3 linked regions of the Homo sapiens genome follow. The protein of the gene in region 3 interacts with the protein of the main gene of each other region in a pairwise test. Each region holds a gene or a part of one and is shown on either strand. Other genes may lie near its edges.

What was found. Proteins that work in one complex are often made in the same cells at the same time.
Region 1: the proteins of ZNF135 (region 3) and LMO4 interact in binary tests that used the Homo sapiens proteins (3 or more experiments, as listed by UniProt).
Region 2: the proteins of ZNF135 (region 3) and WWOX interact in binary tests that used the Homo sapiens proteins (3 or more experiments, as listed by UniProt).

Annotation. Positions count from the first base shown.
Region 1 is NC_000001.11:87,331,848-87,338,879, reverse strand, and holds part of LMO4 (LIM domain transcription factor LMO4), read right to left. Parts: intron 6,868-7,032; 5' UTR 6,865-6,867; coding exon 6,629-6,864; intron 1-6,628. UniProt on the Homo sapiens protein: Transcription cofactor. Plays a role in establishing motor neuron identity, in concert with MNX1, acting, at least in part, to disrupt LDB1-LHX3 complexes thereby negatively modulating interneuron genes in motor neurons.
Region 2 is NC_000016.10:79,208,622-79,213,167, reverse strand, and holds the end of WWOX (WW domain-containing oxidoreductase), read right to left. Parts: exon of another isoform or gene 1,561-4,546; coding exon 1,372-1,560; 3' UTR 501-1,371; downstream 1-500. UniProt on the Homo sapiens protein: Putative oxidoreductase. Acts as a tumor suppressor and plays a role in apoptosis. Required for normal bone development. May function synergistically with p53/TP53 to control genotoxic stress-induced cell death.
Region 3 is NC_000019.10:58,055,127-58,062,295, reverse strand, and holds the start of ZNF135 (zinc finger protein 135), read right to left. Parts: upstream 2,447-7,169; intron 2,328-2,446; 5' UTR 2,294-2,327; coding exon 2,261-2,293; exon of another isoform or gene 1,898-2,260; intron 717-1,897; coding exon 590-716; intron 1-589. UniProt on the Homo sapiens protein: Plays a role in the regulation of cell morphology and cytoskeletal organization. May be involved in transcriptional regulation.

The sequences.
Region 1 (7,032 bases), on a different chromosome or scaffold from region 3:
TCCTGAGTCCACAATTTAGATTACTTCATCTCTGCTAGCAACAAACTGAATGAAATTTCGATTTGAGCAGAAAGTAATTTACCGGGATCTGGACCCATTTGTCATCATATCTCTCTGGGTGTTTGCTGTATCACTGCAGTTTTCCTATGCAATCAAATGAGACCACAACATCTGCCATGGGGGGAGGAGGGGGAGAAGGAAAAGGCTGCAGAGGAGGGGAAAGCTCAAGGAATTGTGGTGTACTGAAGAAAAACATATACATAATTCCTTACATCCTTCTGCAAGCACAACAAAATATTTTAATAACCACCGAACTTGGGCTTTTATGCAATCTGTAGACTCAACCTGGGAAGCTTTATTTGCTTTTGGGCTTCCCTCTTTAATATCCACAAATATTTATTAAACAGACCAAAATGATTTCACATTGAAAGGTGGTGTCGGAACAAGTAAGCAGAATCAGAGAGGTAGTTTTCAAAAACGAAAAACAAAGTAAGAGGACTTACAAATTAACATATTGGTGTCATAATAAATATTAACATTTGCATTTCCTCCTTGTCCAAATAAAGTCATAAAATGCAGTCTGTGTCAAACCAGGAGACATATTCCTATAGAACACCCCATAATCTGAATGATTGCAGCATGCCTCTATATAAAAATAATTGCTTTGAGTTTTCAGAATCTGGTCTTGCAGAAGAGGCTTGTCATGTTCAAACTACTAATTTGCTGTCGCCACTTTATTGAAAATAGCCTGTAAGTTGTTATTAAATGTATTGACTGAACGACAGGGAGAGTAGTAAAACTGCCCCTTAAGATGGCTTTTAATAGGAAGCCCGAGAAACAAATTTTGCAGCAGCATCGATTTGAAGAGTTCAATCAAAACTCCATTTCAAAACTAATTAGTCTGAGATCCACGACACATTGACACGTTCTTGCAGAATCAGAACAGTTACAGAAAGAAAGCTGAAATAATACACTGTCAGGACCTCTAGCTGCAGGACCACACCATGTGGGAGCTTGGGGGGCCTCTGGGCTGCTGTCTCCTAATGCTGGACACTTCAGGAACACTGATGAGGACCTCCCGGTGTCTCACCTGCAGTACCACTGCCGCAGGGGAGTTCTCAGAAGGGGAAGGTAGCCAGAGAATGGGCATGGCCCTGAGGAAAGCATTTATGGACGGCAGTAGTGCTATTCCAACCCCCAAAAGGGATACCAAATTCAAACAATTTGGGTAAAAATAAAGTTAAAAACCAGTCCATGTGGCCAAATACATGCTGAGGATAAGAGAAGACAGGTAATGGGGGTAGAAGGGGGTGACAGAATCCTAACAAGGCTAAAGAACAAATATCCTCTTACAGCAACCCTGAAGTATTTTAATGGATAAGAATCTATAATTATGGTTGCCACTACCAACAGGTACACAGTGACACTCCATCTCAAAAATACCCTTTTCACAGTACCCATCTGATTACTCAGCCTAAGTGTTCATTTATTTAACAATTCACCCTGAGTAAAGTCAGTTGTAAGTCTTCAACATCGAAGTGTATTTTAATAATCAGGGCAGTTCATATGTAATCCAAAAGCCTTTCATAGATCTTATTTTTTTCCAGGGCTGCTATCATAACCTTTCAGAGAACAATCAGCCACAAAATGGTGGGATTCCTGAAGTGCCAAAAATTACAGTTACAAAGTTTGAAATGACCAAGATCTACCCAGGACTGATGTGCTATTGAACAACGTATCAATGGAGTTTAAGATCTTTCCATGCCTACAGCTTTAAGGCTGCCTCAGAGCAGAATAACTTACGTGTCTATACACATTCTAATCCCCTTTTACCAGAGAGGAAGGCTACCATTAGAATTCCACCCTTTTTCTGAAAAGTTGTGTGTGCGTGTGTGTGTGTGTTTTTTCACAACGTTTCTGTGCGCTGGAGAGTTAATTATCTAACCAGGGGGACTGTCCGGACAGTGTTTGATTTAAAAGGCTCGAGGCTTTAGGTGCTCAATTAAGTAGCTATCGGTCTCAGACTGGACTATAATGGGCTCTTTTCTCTTTAACTCAAGCAACGGGGAGATATACCCCAGGTCAGGCTAATTAAAGCCAGGGGAGTCTTTAATTGTGATGACAGAATCGGTTTCAGTTTCCTTTCTTTGGGTCCTCAGTCCAAGAAGGTCGTTAATATTTCAGCATTTGGGCAATGCAATCAATCACAAACATCAAGAGGTTCCTTATACAGGGAAAACGGAAAAGATGGGAAGAAATCCCACCAAACCACTGCACTTTAAAGGTGCTTTGCTCCTGTTTGAACAACACCATGTAGTTTTATTCCTGTTTGCCCGCTGAGCTCCAGCTCTCCTTGCTGGCATTAAGAGATGGAGGGCAAATCGTATTTTTAGTTTACTATCAATGCTTAGCATCTTTCAGTAACTTCAATGACCAATAGGTGGGCTTATTTTCAACTGCATTATTACTTCAAGCAAAATACATGCAATATGAAACGCTACCTGGCTGTGTTTTCTAAACTGCTTTTGGGCAAGGAGAGGTACGTTTCTGAGAGTGTGGCTGAAAGGTATATACATTTGTACCTGCAAGTAAATATCAGCAACCTATCTGAGGAGAAAAAAGCACATCCACAGCTACTGATCCAGAAGCAATTGGTTTTCCAGCAGGTTCCTATATTTAATCTAAATTCTGCACCAGCTATATTAAATGTAACAAAGAAATGCAACCCAGAAATTATGCCTGGAGCCAAGTCCATTAAAGGTACTTCGGAAAAACTAGAGACCAGGCACCTTAAAAGCACCAGAAGCTATTGATACTTAAGAGGGGGGCTGTGCATAATAGGAAAAAAAAAATCAGCCAAATTACGCTTGGTTAATTCAGAGTAACAGATCTGCCCCCAAGTGAATTGGAGGCCTTGAATTAATTCTGTTATGACAAATCAAGATAAACGTTCCCCCTAAATTGCATGCGATTTAATTAATTTTTGAGATCCTGTTTTTTTTTTTTTTCTAGCTAATAGTTCACATGCTCCTGTGCTGTCATTGTGCTTGAGTGGGCAGACTTCAAAGTGATATTAAATAACCAACTATTAGATTTACCTAGCACGTCCTATTGGAAAAGTGCCATTTAATTACCTAGCCTGTTCAATTAAAGGGACAGCATTCTCTGAATATAGCAGCTTGCTGTTGATTACCAGGGAAATGAACTCGCTGTCTGGCGGCGCCTCCATTCCTAACGCCACCCCCTACCCAAACACACCCTCCACCACCAACTACCAATTCTCCCCACCCTCGCCCCAGGCCCCCACCCCCGGCCGCGCCGGGCTCACTGCGGCTGCGGGCGCCACGTGAACCGCCCGAGTGGAGCCCGGGGAAAGAAAGCGCGACCCGCTCGCCCGGCTCCCGCCCTGCGCTCGCCCCCTCGTGGGCCCGAGACCGCCCGCCGGCTGGGCGCTCTGGCTGCGGCCTCGGGCGGCGCCGGCCCGGGTGCTGGCCGCCTAGGGAGCGAGGGCCAGCCGACGACCGCCACCCTGGCTTCCGGCGCGTTTCCTCGCCCTCCCCGGACCTGGAGCCCCACCCGCCGGTCTCCGAACTTCCTCCTCTCGCTGCACTTTCCGCGCCAGTCTTCGGGCCCGAGGTGGGGGTGGAGGAAAGACGGTTCGAGGAAGAGAAACGGAGTTTCCGAAGCTACTTGGGGCGCTTGGGTGGAGCTGAGGGGTCGGGAGCCGGGGGTGGGGGAAGGGGCAGTCCCAAGGTTCCCCTATTTTTGTAAGATGGGGGGGCCAGGCAGGCGTTGGTCCCTTTAAGATCCACCCTCCCCCTCCGCTCTACAACCCCCCCCCCTTCATTCTTTCCCTCCCTCTCTTAGAGGCCAATTTTGTTAATTAAATGTTTTGTTTGCGACGCAGCTCTCATTCATTGCGGACACGTCATTCGGAGCAGATCTAAGCCAGAGACCAGATCTCATTAGATAAAGCCCATCAGAACTAAGAAAATGGAGGAGCCACTAATTAAAGCTTTTAATTGTGCGGATTCGCTGCAGCAAGGCAGCCGCTTTATCTGAAATCTTGGAGGGAGAGGAGGCAGAAGCCCAGCTCTGCCCATCGACACTTGGCCGCGGAGGGGGAGGGGACTGGTGAAAGCGCCCCCTCATCTTGCAGCCCCCTCCCCCGCGCTCAGGCCGGCCTTTCCCAGCTCTCCCGCAGCTTTTTAGCAAGACCTTGGTTGTTTTCAAAAAACCACAACTCAAAGTCAAGACAGTTTAAAAGCCCCTCAGTAAATCGCTATGTGGTCTCAGTCGGACCAAGGGGTCCCCTTCACCTGGCGGCGGGCGAGCAGATTACTCCACTCTTCTGCAGCGGTCCCTGCGGCATTGAAAGCTCCTCCAACAAGTGGACTTGAGGGACATTGGAGAGGGGGTAGCTGAGAGGAACAGCAACGTCTGCACCTTCCCACCCTTTGGACATCCTGATGGGCTGAGAGAGGAACACTGAAGGAAGACTTCAGTAATCTCTTAAATTGGAGGGGAAGGGGCGCTCAGCTGCTGGTGAGCCCTGAGCTAAGTGTGAGGCCATCAATTTCGTACTGAGCTAGAACTCATCTCTCCTAGAAAGATCTAAGGTCCTCGGGGTAGCATGTAGTTCAAGAGCGAGCCTGGCTCCAGTTTCCAGATTCAGAGGGAAAAAAGGAAGTAAGAACGTAGATGCCATTAATTAAGGCTCAGGGCTGGGCACACATCCTCCATTGCTCCATTAGGGCACAGGAAAACACCAAAAGGCCATTTACATTTGGCCCCAAGAATAGAGAAAAGAATGGACACAATTCCCAGGAAGCCACTTGCCTAAACTTGTCCTGGGGGAATACAAGCGGACCCATCTTCTTTTTAATTAGTTGTAATCAGAAGCGAGGGTTTTTTTTGTTTTTTGTTTTTTTTTTTTTGAAGGCACTCGGAGAAGAGATGAATCTGTACCATTCACGGAATCTTAACAGCACTGTCAATTTTTCCACTTCAAACCACACTCCTTTCTTACCACAGTTTTGCTTTCTATTTAATTACAGCACCGTCAAAGCTCATGGCATTACTTGGAAGGAGGACCAGAAAGCATTACACCCATGTTCCTGCTGATTTTCCAACATTTACTTCTAAAAGAACACTTAGTGAAATTAATGCTGCCATCTTAATTTAAAAATAAAAGCCCTCTCCCTTCCTGTATTTCTTTTACTTGGACTGATTGAGGATGCCAGCAGAATCGACACAGGTTGCATTATCAAAATAACTAAATGTCATTTTACTCCATCATCTTACACTAATGATATCACTGGGGTAAACATATCCACACTCAGCTCGGAACTGCACTGGGATCTTTTACAATGTTAGTCGCAGGATAAGGCGAATCACAATGGAGCTAAACTTTGAACAAAATAGTTCATCCACTGATTTACCCACACTGAAGAAAGAAAAAAATTTTCTACTAATCACTTTAAAGAAAAAGGTTTAGGACAAATTTACATAGGATGAAATTCTTAAAAGTGTGCGGTTTTCTAGTATCAACTGTGTGCGTGTGGGTTTTTTTTTTAATTACTGGATGTTGAAACAGAACACCTCCTAGAAGCATTCATGTGCATCAGTCTATCAAACCATTTACTCAAATTAAATGTGTAATCCTTCAAATGCCTCCTTTCAAATTAATGAGTTTAAGTAGCTTGAGTTCACCTGAAAAGATCCTATAGGCACCTGACCTCCTGAATTCTTTCCATTAATTGCACTGCAACTTGTTGGAAAAGACTGCTTACATGGACATATGAATGTTCCTATACATTGCTTTAAAATGCAAGATTAGTATAATTCTATAGCCTTTTTCTAAATCTCTTTTGGGGATCAAGGGCAGTGATACAAACGACAACAAAAAACCCAAAACCTGAACATGCTTCAATTGAAAAAAACTGCAAATTCTACATCGCAAACCACACACTAACTGAATTATTGCAAGCCTCCGAGTAACAGTATGAAGAGAAACATTACCACCAGGTTTTATTTCTTGGGACTTTTTTTTTCTCTATAAGAAGAATTACAAGTCTTTAAACTGATGGATAATTAGCATTTTTCTCAAGGAGCACAAAGAACGAATCACAGCCTTCCGCTCAAAAAAGTTTCAAGATGCTTATGTAAATATCGTTAATAAGCCATCGCCATAGACAAATCATTTCTCACTAACTACACTTGTATTTTTAAGTCAACCTTTGTTTCTGGGTTCCTCTGTGAGTTCCTACCTTGTTTTAAGAACGCAGCTTAACTCCCGCTTGGGATGTTTGCTTTTAGCCTGAAGTCCAGTAGAGGCTGACCACTTACTTAAACTCTAGGACCAGAGGGTGCTCAACCTTTGCACATCTAATGACCCAGTCCCACCAGATGGTCTTTACTTAGTATGGCATTTGCCATGAATTTGCCATCAGATATTGGAAGACTAACACATGCTTCCTGAACCCCTTAAATTCCGCCAACTAGAAGATTTTTGAGGTGAAGGCTGCATACTCCCCGTAGACGCCTACTCCTTTCCTCACAACCCTGTTAACCTTTGGCCTTGCCATTGCTCTTCCCCCCATCTCCAGGAAAGACAGCAAAGTCTTACCTAATGTAGTCATTTCTGCAAAGGATCATGCCACTTTTGGTGTAACAGGACGTGCCGATGTCGCCCAGCTGCGCCTGGCAGCAGGAGCACTTGAGGCACCGGCTGTGCCAATAGCTGTCCATGGCATAGAGCAGAAAGCGGTCCGCAATCTTGCCCCCGCAGCCTGCGCACCGCTTCCAGGAGAGGGAGCCGGCCGTCACCGGGGGCGGCTGCGAGCTGCTGCCCGGATTCACCATGGTCTGCAGAGGGCGGGAAGGGGACAGGGAGAGAAAGACAAAACAGGGGCGATGCAAAAGTTAGTAATCGCCGGAGAGAGAGCAAGCCCATTCCCCTCCTCCCCGCGGAGCTGCTGGAAGGAAACAGCAGGGCAAGGGCGGGAAGGAGGCTGAGGGGGAGAGGGAAGA
Region 2 (4,546 bases), on a different chromosome or scaffold from region 3:
TTCTCCGTCTTGCCAGAGTGGACTTTCTCATGTGCTTGCTGGAACGGGCTGGAAATCATGGTGTCCATGAGATGGGATGCGCAGATAAGAGCTTCTGCACAGCTCCCATTCTCAAACATAGAGATACCCGCTAATCACTAAGTACTTGCTAATTGCAGGGGAGCAGACCATTGAGGACTAAAATAACTCACTGTAAGTAAGTAATAACAAAACATCTTAAGGTGAAATGAAACAATAGTCATTTTTCTTTTTTCTTTCTTTAACAGAAAATATGCTGGCATGCTAATCGCGTGAGACAACTTGGCCCACGGACAGCCACAAAGCACAAAAACAAAACACAAACTCACTCAGAGAAGAAACAAGAATCGTGTTTTCCTGGCATCTACGAGAAGCGCTTTATTAGAAGCGCTTTATTTTTCCTCTAGATTTCTTTTCTAAAAAATGAAAAACAAAAACAAACTGAAACAAACATTTAAAGAAACAATACAAACTTCAGGTGATGATATTCAAGCATGTTCTTTTATTAAGCATAGGATGCGAGGCACAGCAGGAGGTTTAAGTACAATGTGAAAGCAAGAGAACTGAGACTGTGATTGACAGACAAAGGGATTAACTAACGTTTTATTCTCTGCCCCCCAAAATATCCTGTGTATTCTTAAGTATATACGCTTCCCTTCCTGCCTTTCAAGGTATCTAAGGAATGATTTGAAAAATTTGTTATAATCTCTAAAGAATTTTTTGCATAGCATTAGCAAAGGAGTCTATGACAAGTACTTTGCCACCTGGTAGTTCTGCGTATTCTACTCCCTCTGGGTGTCACTGTCATCCTCACTGGCTGGGACAAGGTTCTGAGATTTGTCTCCCCAGCAGTTGCTAAGCTGGCTCAGTCTTGGTCAGGATGAATGAAACAATTATCTCCTGGATCAATGCAGCAAGGAGCAGTGAACACTTGCTTTTTCTTCCCTAAGTAGGAGAAGGCCAGCCCCCGGCTGCAGTGGTGGCCGTGGTGGTAGCTGGATGGGACGAGGGGACCTCAGGCTATTCTATAACAGTAAAAGAAAGAGAATTGCTGGTGCTTCTCCAGGGAGATACGGAACCTACACACCAAGCAGGTTTTTACTTTCAAACAGGCCACCACCAGAAAGCAAAGAGACCTATGCCTAGCCCAGCCCCAGAAAAGTGATACTTTACCCCAGGAATTCCCTGCTTCCCATTGGTACTTAAGATTTTTCACTCTGTTGTGACTGCTCTTATTTCCTTTACTCTTGCGGATCTGTGTTGGAGGGACATTTGGAAGGGGCCCAGCCCTGGCACTTGCGTGAGGGGACACACACAGGGCGGGTGTGTGTGCCCATCCGCTCTGAGCTCCACTTAGCCGGACTGGCTGCCAAGCCGTTCTTGGATCAGCCTCTCGCTGAGCGCCCACAGGGTCCGGGCCGTCTCTTCGCTCTGAGCTTCTGGTGAGGGCATGCAGCGGCAGCAGTTGTTGAAGTACATCCCTCCCAGACCCTCCAGTTCTGGGACAGCAGCACAGTACACGGTGGTGGCAGCTCCCTGTTGCTGGAAATCCAAGAAGAAAGACAAAAAAAAATTTTAAGAAAAGGAGTGATGAGATGGCGTCATTTCGACTGCCTGGGCATTAGCAGGCCTCCCCCACCTGGTTCAGTTTCAGCTGGATCTTGGCATAGCAAAGGGTACTGGGCTGAAAGCACATGACTGTAAAAAGTATAATGTGACTATCCTGGAAAAACGAGTTCATAAACTCCGCTTGTAAAGCTGGTGTAACTTTTGACACCTCATACAGGGACAGGCTTGGAAAATAAATACACATATCAATACGTCGTGGCAGGCGCCTCTTCCACACAGAGAAAAAGATGGTATCCTTCTGAACGTGCAAGAACAAATTCATCCAACCCCTCAACTTCTCCATGTATAATGTAATTCGATACCAAATCGTTTGTAGAACCTTCTGTCTGACAAACCAACCACTCTTAATTGTGGTCCATCAGGTAGAAAACCCAAGTGGGGCTGCTGCCAGATCATCCCTTTATGCTTTGCCCACGGTGCTGCTAGGGGAAGGGTTGGCAATGTTGTGTTAAAACATTTAATGCACACACACACACACACACACACTCCTCACCATACATTCATACTTAGCACAAACACATAACACATTAATTCATCCAGATCCCATGAAAACCTTTTTCTAAATGTCATATTTGACCCAGATTTACAATGGGACCACAGGTAAGGGGGTACATTTCCTCCCAGCCCACTTCAAAATGTAAGTTGCAAAGAGTGCAGCTGATCACTTTCATTCACCTTTTGAGTAACAGTTGCGGCTGTGGCTAGGGACGTGTGCAGTGATGAGGCATCATATCATCCAAACTGACAGAATACTGTCAGGGATGCTATAAAGAGGGCAAGAAATCACTTTGCTTTGCAAGCCATAATTAAAAATAATAGGCTGCTGTTCAGAGGGAGACATGGTCGGCACGTCTCTAATTTAAAACCAATACAGTTTATCTGGCATCTTATGATTATTTATGTGTTTCAGAGCCCTAGCTGCATCCACTAATTTTCAGCTGATGAGAGGGAGAGGGGTTGCAAGAGAGGACCGGAAAAGGTAACTGAAGATAAGCTCGCCCCCACAAGGAAAACACTAAGGAACTTTGATTGTGGGGGAAATGGCTTTCCGACCCGACCCAAAGCTTATCATTTTTCTGCCCCTGCAGGGTTTACATTGTGACCATGCAGGGTGCTTACTGGAGGAGTTTCCCTCAAATGGTCTGGTTTGCAATCACTATGCTTGCATTCTAGGATCCCTGGGAGAGTCAGGTCCATACTGAGAAATAGGGTCCCAAGGAAGGTGTTACGACGTGAAGAATCTGCCATAAGGCAGACTTGGGTTTGTTGTTGTCATTGTTGTTTGGTTTTAGCTTCTTCAGTGTCAGGATATCTAGTAACAATGGAGTTGGTCTGAAAACTGAATGGTCAAATGCAGTCAAGTGATACGACTCTGGGCGGGGTGTGGACCGTGAGTGAGACAAAGACTTGGGTTTTGATAATAACTGGCTGCTTGATGATACTGGACAAGTTCCACTGGTCCTGAATTTGAATAACTGACATGACTTGAACTTAATAGTAGCTGGTTTGTTACCTCCCCAATCTCCCTCCATTATCATGCCCACTCCAAATAGCCAGATATTATCCTGGATTCAGCTGTTTCTTTTCCCATTGATTTGTGTGGCTCAAGTCTAATGGAAATGAGTTCATGTCATCCAAATTTCCTTTCACTGAATTATTATTCCTAATAACCCTGAGCTTAGCACCTGGCACATTTATCTAAACAACTTCAAGGGGTTTATCTGGCTCTTCTGCATCCCATGTGGGGAAAAGGGAAGCAGAAGTGCCTCTAAAGACAAATTGGAGAATTGAGATGCTCATCCAGCTAACTCAAGCCAAGTATTATTTTGGCCTGGAATCTTAGAGTTCTGGTGGAGATGGTGTTTTGTATCAACTTCCAGATATCTGTCATATATTTTCATTTTACCTTGCAGCTGCCAAAACGACCAGAGTGGCCAAGTGACTTGCCATTAACTCCCGAGTGGTGGGAGAATCCAGCTCACCCATTTCAAGTCCAGCCTCCCGCCCTCTATGCCACAATGGTTATACTATTCAGCATTCAAACGTCATGACAGACTGGCCTTTCACTGTTCTGCCAAGCGTGAGGAAAGACCAAAGCAGTCCGTTTGGGAAAGCAAAAAGCAGAATTCTTCCTAACCTGATAAAATATTTTGCCACTATGACCTACTGTAATGATACCACGTTGCACTCTTGCATTACTGGAATGGTATTTTTGCTAAGAAATTCTGCAGTCCCATTGATTCAGAATGCCATTGTTGCAGGAGCTGGGGACCTACCTTTTCCTTCCACGGAATCTAAAGGCAATTACAACTGGCTTCATTTCATGCCAACCTACATTTGGCTACAATGCTGAGAGCCATACCTTTTTGAAAAGCCTAACTTTTTATCAGGAGATGGCTTTGATTCCTTTGCCACTAGGCTTGGGGTGATTTACCATCTAAATTCCATCACAAGTGGCTCTGGCTTTGTAGAACACAGTACACAGGAGGGGCACCCGAAAGCAAAGACGACCTTCTCTACTCCAAAAATCAATCGTCCACCTTTGGCAAATTCTCCTTCTCAGATTCATGCTTGGTGCTCATGGGTACTCACTCTACTTTCCTCCCTTGCTGGACAATTAAGCAGTAACAATATCTTGTTGGTCCCATACACACCACACCTTTGGTCTCTTGGAGAATTTTCAGCCGTACCAATGGCAACCTCTGAGTGACATCTTAATATGATCAGATGTGATGACAGTTTAGTAACAGGTTCTCATTTTTGGCTCACCAGCTTTTCGGCCTACATATCATCAGAATAAGACTGAGGCACATTAGTGAAATCTCAATAGTAAACAAGCAGGTACTGCCAATAAAAGAGAAAGCATTCTTAAACTGATTAAAAAAAAAATTTAAAGAGC
Region 3 (7,169 bases):
AGTGATTAATTCATGAGGGCTCCACTCATGAATGGGATCAGTGCCCTTATAAAAGAAGCTTGAGATAACTCCCTTGCCCTTATGGCATGTCAGGACACAGGAAGAAAGTGCCATCAGTGAGGAGCAAGCCCTCACCAAACACTGAATTTGCTGACACCTTGATCTTAGGCTTCCCAGCCTCCAGAACCATGAGCAACAAATATCTATTGTTTAAAATTACCCAGTCTAAGGTATTTTAGCAGCCCTAACAGACTAAGACAGAAGTGCAGAGGGAGGTGTTGAAGAAGGAGGGGCTCCTAACAGCTCTACAGAACACCCTGGTCTACCCTGGGATTCTGTAGTCTTCAGACCCAGTATGTTTCCCTCACCTCATGTTTCTCTGCTTCTGTTGATTTCAGGTTGAGTCTGAGACTTGCTAATATTGGTCTTAATTGATATTTCCTACATTAAAACAGTCAGGTTCTTAAAGCCCAAGACATACAGCCCCAGGCATTTGCTTTTAAAGCTCAGTCCTATAAATATTTAACCTGGTAGAATCAGAATCCGTGTCAGGGACAGATCAACAGATAGGACATGGGTGTGGCCTTACCCACAGAGACCAGAAGCCTGAAGGTGTCCAGCATTACATCACGGTACAGGGTCCTCTGGGCAGGCTTCAGCTGCCCCCACTCCTCCTGGCTGAAGCCCACTACCACGTCCTCAAACGTCACTTGCTCCTGAAACATCACACGAGTGTCCTCAGCCAAGCCAACCCTGGCACTGGCTGCTGGTGGGGTAGCTGGTAAATGCCAGCCAGGCTGGGTCGGATGGAGTTCCCTTTGGTCTGGGGTTTTGGGTCAGGTTTTTCTGTGGGGCCTGGATGGGTGCCCTGCTGATGAGGTGGAGGATCTTAGAATCTAAGGCATCATGCCCGTTTCCAATAATTTGTCTCTTGAAATAAGAAATGGAGGGAGCCAGCAATAAAGGAGTGGACCAGCCCAGCATGGTGTCGCATGCCCGTGGTCCCAGCTGCTTAACAGGCTGAGGTGGGAGGATCACTTGAGCACGTAAGTTTGAAGCACAGTGAGCCATGATTGCATCACTGCACTTCAGCCTAGGGGATAAACAAAGTTATAAAGCTAGTAGCAGAAGTCTAAAGACTGAATCTGGGTGGTTTTTTTTTTCCCCCGAGACGGAGTCTCGCTTTGTCGCCCAGGCTAGAGTGCAGTGGCATGATCTTGGCTCACTGCAAGCTCCGCCTCCTGGGTTCACGCCATTCTCCTGCCTCAGCCTCTCGAGTAGCTGGGACTACAGGCGCCCGCCACCCCCCCGGCTAATTTTTTTTTGTATTTTTAGTAGAGACGGGGTTTCACCGTGTTCGCCAGGATGGTCTCGATCTCCTGACCTCGTGATCCGCCCACCTCGGCCTCCCAAAGTGCTGGGATTACAGGTGCGAGCCACCGCGCCCGGCCAAATCTGGGTTTGTTTTTTAATTTTTTAGAGACAGGGTTCCACTGTCATTCAGGCTGGAGTGCAGTGGCACATCATGGCTCACTGCAGCCTCCAACTCCTGGGCTCAAGCAATCCTCCCCCATAGCTGGGATTACAGCTACAAGCCATCGCACCAGTCCCCTTGTACGGGTTTTCTGACATTCCTACAGGAGGCTGGTTTCTTCTGGTGGCTTATGGGTGGGGTTAATGTCATCATAAAAAGGCGAGTTCCGCCCCCTTGGCCTCCATGACGTCTGAGGAAGCGGCACTCGATGCGCCATCTTGGAGCGCAGAGCATGCTAAGGCCTTCAACTTCAGACTGCAGAGCCGGGGCACCTACAATTTTCTGACATCACCCAGCCTCAGGTATGCAATGACGGCCGCACAAACATAAAGCCCACTCAGACAGGGACCCGTGCCCGCTGACCTCCAGCGCGGCGTGGGCGGTCCTTTCAGAGGCAGGCTGTGGTTGGGGAGCTTGGCGCGGACTTTAGGAGGCCGGGTGTGCAGGTAGAGGCCGGACACGAGTAGAGGCTAGATGTGCAAATAGAGGCCGGGCACGAGTAGAGGCCGGGCACCAGTAGAGGCCAGGTGCGCGAGTAGAGGCCAGTTGTGCGAGTAGAGGCCGGGCACGAGTAGGGGCCGGGCACGCAAGTAGGGGCCGGGCACAAGGAGGAGGCTGAGCGCGAGTAGGGACGGGGTGCAAAGAGGAGGCCGGGCGTGAGAAGGCCGCGCGCGAGGAGGCCGGGCACGAGGTGGAGGACACGCGCAAGGAGGCCGAGATTCTCACCGGGTCTGTGGAGACGCGCACCCCAGGGGTCATGCCCTGGCTTCTGGCAGGAACGGCTGGCCCTGCTCTGTGGGAAAGGGGAGGTGAGCAGCTGGGGCAGGCAGAGGCGGTGCTCAGGTCCCCAAGCCGGGGAACTGCGCCAGAGCCTGGGGAGCTCCGCGGAGAGCCGTCCAGGGCCCCGCGTACCCGTTTAAGCGCCTGCTGTGTGTGGGGCGGCCCTCCGCTCGGAGAAGGGCAGCCTAGGGTTTTCCCGCCTGTCTGAGGGAAGCTGAAGGCCTGGCGGGTGCGGACACATATCTGCTGCGCAGACTCTGAGCCTTAACGCTACAGTGACAAGGGCCGGGTGGTTGCGGTCCCCTGGCCCTGGGCACTATGCCTCAGTTTCTCTCTTCCATCAACAAAGGTGGCGGCCCAGTGCCCGGTGTGGGGCAGAGGTGGGGCCAGGGGCGGGGCGCGCGTTCCCTCAGGGGCCGTCGGAGCAGCTCCTGTCCAGCTGGGCGTTGGGCCCCGCCCTCCTCTCAGACTAGGGATGCCCCGCAAAGCCTGCCCCCGCCAGCCCCGAAACGGCCTTCCCCAGGCCCCGGGCAGCAAAACGGACTCCACACAGACGCGCGCTGCTGGAAACTCGCCCCGCCAGGGCCTCAGGAAGATCCCCGGACCCCCCGCACCCGGCCCGGCCCGGCCCGGCCTGGCCTCCCCTCCCCCTCCTCGCCGGCCTAGCTCACCCTCCTGACTGCGAGACAAAGGCCGCGGCACCGGCAGCCGACACTGCGCCGGCGCGAGCCTAACTCCATTTCCCAGAGAGCCGCGCGCGCATTTCCGGCCGCCCTCCCCCACCTCGCTCTCGCCCTTGGCGTTCGTGAGCTCTCAGTGCTGCTGGAGCTGGAGTGACTGGGCCTGGTGAAACAGGGCGCGCGGGGTGCCTGGGCATCAACGCGGGATAAGTGCCGCTTGGAACGCCGTGAGCTCCCGGCGCGACCACACGGGCTTTCGTGTTGGAAACTCTACCGTCAGTTTTACTGCTGCAAACAAAGCAATGATTTTTTCAAAACACATACTTTCAACCAAAACATTCACCAAGATCGCACACACGGGAGTCTTTGCATTTTCCACACTGAGGCAGCCATGGAGACTTCACACTGTATTTATTACATGGTTATAAGGAACATCACGTGCAAGACACTAACAATTATGACGACTTTGGACATTGCTAGGTAATTGTCAAAATTGTGCATTTGAACAGCAGCAAAATATTCAAAGCTGGTGTGCCCTCGCTGACACGAAATGAATTGTCATTTTCTGAACATTCACCAAAGCCTGCCAGGCGCTAGGCCTAGGTTCAGCAGCACACAATAGTGAAGCCCCCATTCAAGCGGGCTTCGTTTCACCAGCGTACGTCACACGTCCGTGGAGCAGCGAGACCAGAGGAGCTGGGAAAGCCAGGGCTGAGCCTTGTGCTTTTGCCCTTTTAAGGGAGGACAGATTAATTCCAATCAGCCTGGGCTTGGGAGCTGTATTTGAAGCAGAGGAAAAGTTTTAAGACGGGCATTTTTTTTTCTTTGACTGAAACAACTCTGAAAACAGCAGAGAACACAATACGAATTCTCGTACCACACACAGACACTTGCAAAGATTTGGCTGGTTAACACACAAGTTAAGACTTTAAATTTCATAAGCCCTAAAACAGTGGCAATTATGAAGAGATATAATGGCTCAAAATCATAATGCACTGATGTAAACAAAGCAAAGGCAAGCTTCTTGGCTTTTAAGGGCGTCCTGTACATTCCAAGTACTGTAAAGCCCCACATTTGTGACCGTCGCACTGAAAGCCAGCCTGCTTTTCACTCTACAGCAGTAAAGAGGCTTTCCATTATACATAAAATGCCGTTTTTCAGTTCTCGAACTCACAAACCCAAATGCCACAAAACATCTTTTTGTGTATTTTTTCTTTCACAAAATGTATACTCTTGCCCCCCACCCCCACCCCCAACCGTTTCCTTTTACTGGATCAAAAGGTATGAACACACAACTCATGGTGAAGTCTTTTTCCCAAGCGGTCTGATAGTCCTGGTGAGAAGCTGTCAGTGGTGCCACACTGAGCCTGCTCAGCCCTGATGGTGGCCAGGCGGCCCTGCCCAGCTCCCTCAAACTTGCCCCTCTGTTTCCTCCCTCAGACCTTCTGATCCTCTGTTTTTCTCAGCCAGGTTTCTAAACCGTACATGCTTTTGCAGGGGCGGGCTCTTTCTACAGGGGCAAGTGCTGCTTGGCTCCAGCCAAGTGGGGTCGTGCGGACTGGCAAGCCCAGCGTCCCAGGTCTGGATTTCTCTAAAGAACCCAGAGATCAGGATTTCTATGTGAAATCTCTTGATTTTTAAAAGCTGGTAGGGATTTCAAAGGCTTTAATAACACTCTACCAGTCAAATAAGATGAGCTGGAGGCTACTCCAGTGCCACCCTTGCTGTGGTCTGAACCTCCTGCTGTCTCTTGTAACCACTGGCTGGGCCCCTCTCAGCTCCTTCTTGGCTTCCTGTACGAATCTCCAAGCAGAGCATTGCTGGTTGCCTCTCTGTGGCCTGGAACAGGACCCCCCACCATGAGCAGGTGGGCTGCACATCAGTACAGCTTCCAAGCAATCCTGCAATCACAGCATGGATAGCAGAACTGTGTCATGCTGTATGTTAATGTTCAAAAAGTTAATCTGTTCAACACATACATTTAAAATATACTGTAACAGTTACAGCTCCCTGGACATATTTCTCCCTTTAAAAAAAAAATCTTTTTGACAGCTTCAAAACCTGGCAGTGTCCAGGCCTCCTCTGACCCAAGAGACCCTGGCTGCCAGGGAGAAAGGTGGCGTCTGAGACTCCGGTCTTCCAGAGCGTGAAGTGCCCAGGGCTGGGCTCACAGCTCCTGTGACAAGGGCTGGAGGACAGGAGACTGGGGCACATCGTGATGGGGGTGTTGGAGTCTTTGGGGGGTGCTGGCAGAGGAAGGCACAGGGCAAGGGAGGCGTGCTGAGGTGCTGGGGCTTCCACAGCTGGGGTGAACCCAAAGAGAAGAGAGGGGCTAGTGCTCTGTCTCACTGCAGCTCGGGCAGGGGCTTGGGACTGGGCAAGTTAGGTGAAGAACACCACGTGGTGGCTTTCGTGAGTTGCAGCAGCTGCCACAACTGGTCCAGCACCCTGGGCCAAGTCCTTGCTTCTGTCAGCCAAGGTGTAGCACGTGAGAGTGGCCCTCCAGGACCCTGGGCCACGTCCTTGCTTCTGTCAGCCAAGGTGGAGCACACAAGAGTGGCCCTCCAGGATCCTGGGCCACGTCCTTGCTTCCGTCAGCCAAGGTGGAGCACACAAGAGTGGCCCTCCAGGACCCTGGGCCACGTCCTTGCTTCTGTCAGCCAAGGTGGCGCACACAGGAGTGGCCCTCCAGGATCCTGGGCCACGTCCTTGCTTCCGTCAGCCAAGGTGGAGCGCATTGAGAGTGGCCCTCAAGGGGTGGCCCACCTCCCCTCAGAGGTCGAGGGAGGCTTCCCCGGCTGGAAACTGCAGCCCACAATGGTGTCCCGGTGTCTCCACAGGGACTTCCCCTCACTCATTGAGTCACTCATCCCTTCACTCTGTAGGACCTGTTGTATGCTGGGTGTGGTCAAGTATGGCAGTGGAGACTGTTCTAGGCACAGGAGGAGGCCAGGGTGAGAGGCAGTGTGGAGTCAGGTGGAGACACAGTGAGTTAAGGACACCAGCCTCCACCATCCCAGTGCTGGGGGCTGTGGAGGCAGCAGGGCCACAAAGGACACTATAGAGCTACCCTGCTGGGCTTTGTCTTTTCAGTGTCTGCATTTTAGAGGGACCCTGTTGGCTGCAGGATGGGGATGGGGCAGAGGGAACGGGCTGGAGGCAGAGTTTGCTTAGAGGCAGCTGCAGGCATTCAAGAAATGGGGAGAGAGCCTGGGGCTGATGGTGCAGAGGAGAAAAGAGAACTGAGAGGGATTGGGAGCTGGGTTCCCAGGGCAATCAAAAATCCTTGTGGGGCCTTGGAAGGTGGTGGTCCCTCTGAGGGGAGTGGGAACCCCAGAGGGGAGGCAGTTTGCGTTGTTTTCTTTGTTGTTGTTTTTTGTTTTTGCACAAGGGAAGATGAGTTATTTGGACAAACTCAATTGGAGAACTGAGGGACACCAGATGGATGTCTCTGGGGCCAGCCCAGGTAGGCTGGAGCCTGACTGATGCCTCGTGTTCAATGGCACCCACTTTCTTGTGCAACTCTGGCACCAACAAACTGAGCTGTGATTGTGCCTCCAGCAGGTGGAGACCGAGATGGAAACAGCATGGAATGAGCCCCTGGCTCCCAACAAGTGGGGGCACTCGGGAGAGCTATCTCTACACATCCCGTTGTCTGAGACGATCAATCTGCGCCTGAGAGAAGGCTCAGGGGGGCTTCCGAGAGTAATGGGCTGACTGCGGGGCCAAGACCCCACCCTCCATCCTGAGCTCTGTAGAAGAAGCTCCTCCTTTGCAGGATGAGAGAGAAGGTGCCAGGAGGGGAGCTGGAGCCCACCAGCAATTAAGGCATAGGATAGAGCCAGGAGCCCCCAGTGGGGACTGCAGGGAAAAGCTGGGGATGCCTGAGGGAGCCGGGAAGCAAGGTCCGGAGGCGCGGTTAGGGGGCGCTCCGAGAAGGCAAGCGTGAGAAGGCAAGCGCGGCAGCGAGGATGAAGTGAAGGCAGCGGTGGGTCCGTGGGACCTGCACAGCCCGAGAGGGCCATCGGGGACAGAGGCCGAGAGTGGGGGCAGCTTGGTTGAGAAGCAGCAGCAGGCGGATGTGACGTGGGTAAGTCCAAAGGCTTTTGATTTAGAAGGCGACTTGGAAAAATGTCTCTGCCTGTGCGGATTCACAGTCAGCCCAACACTGTGTT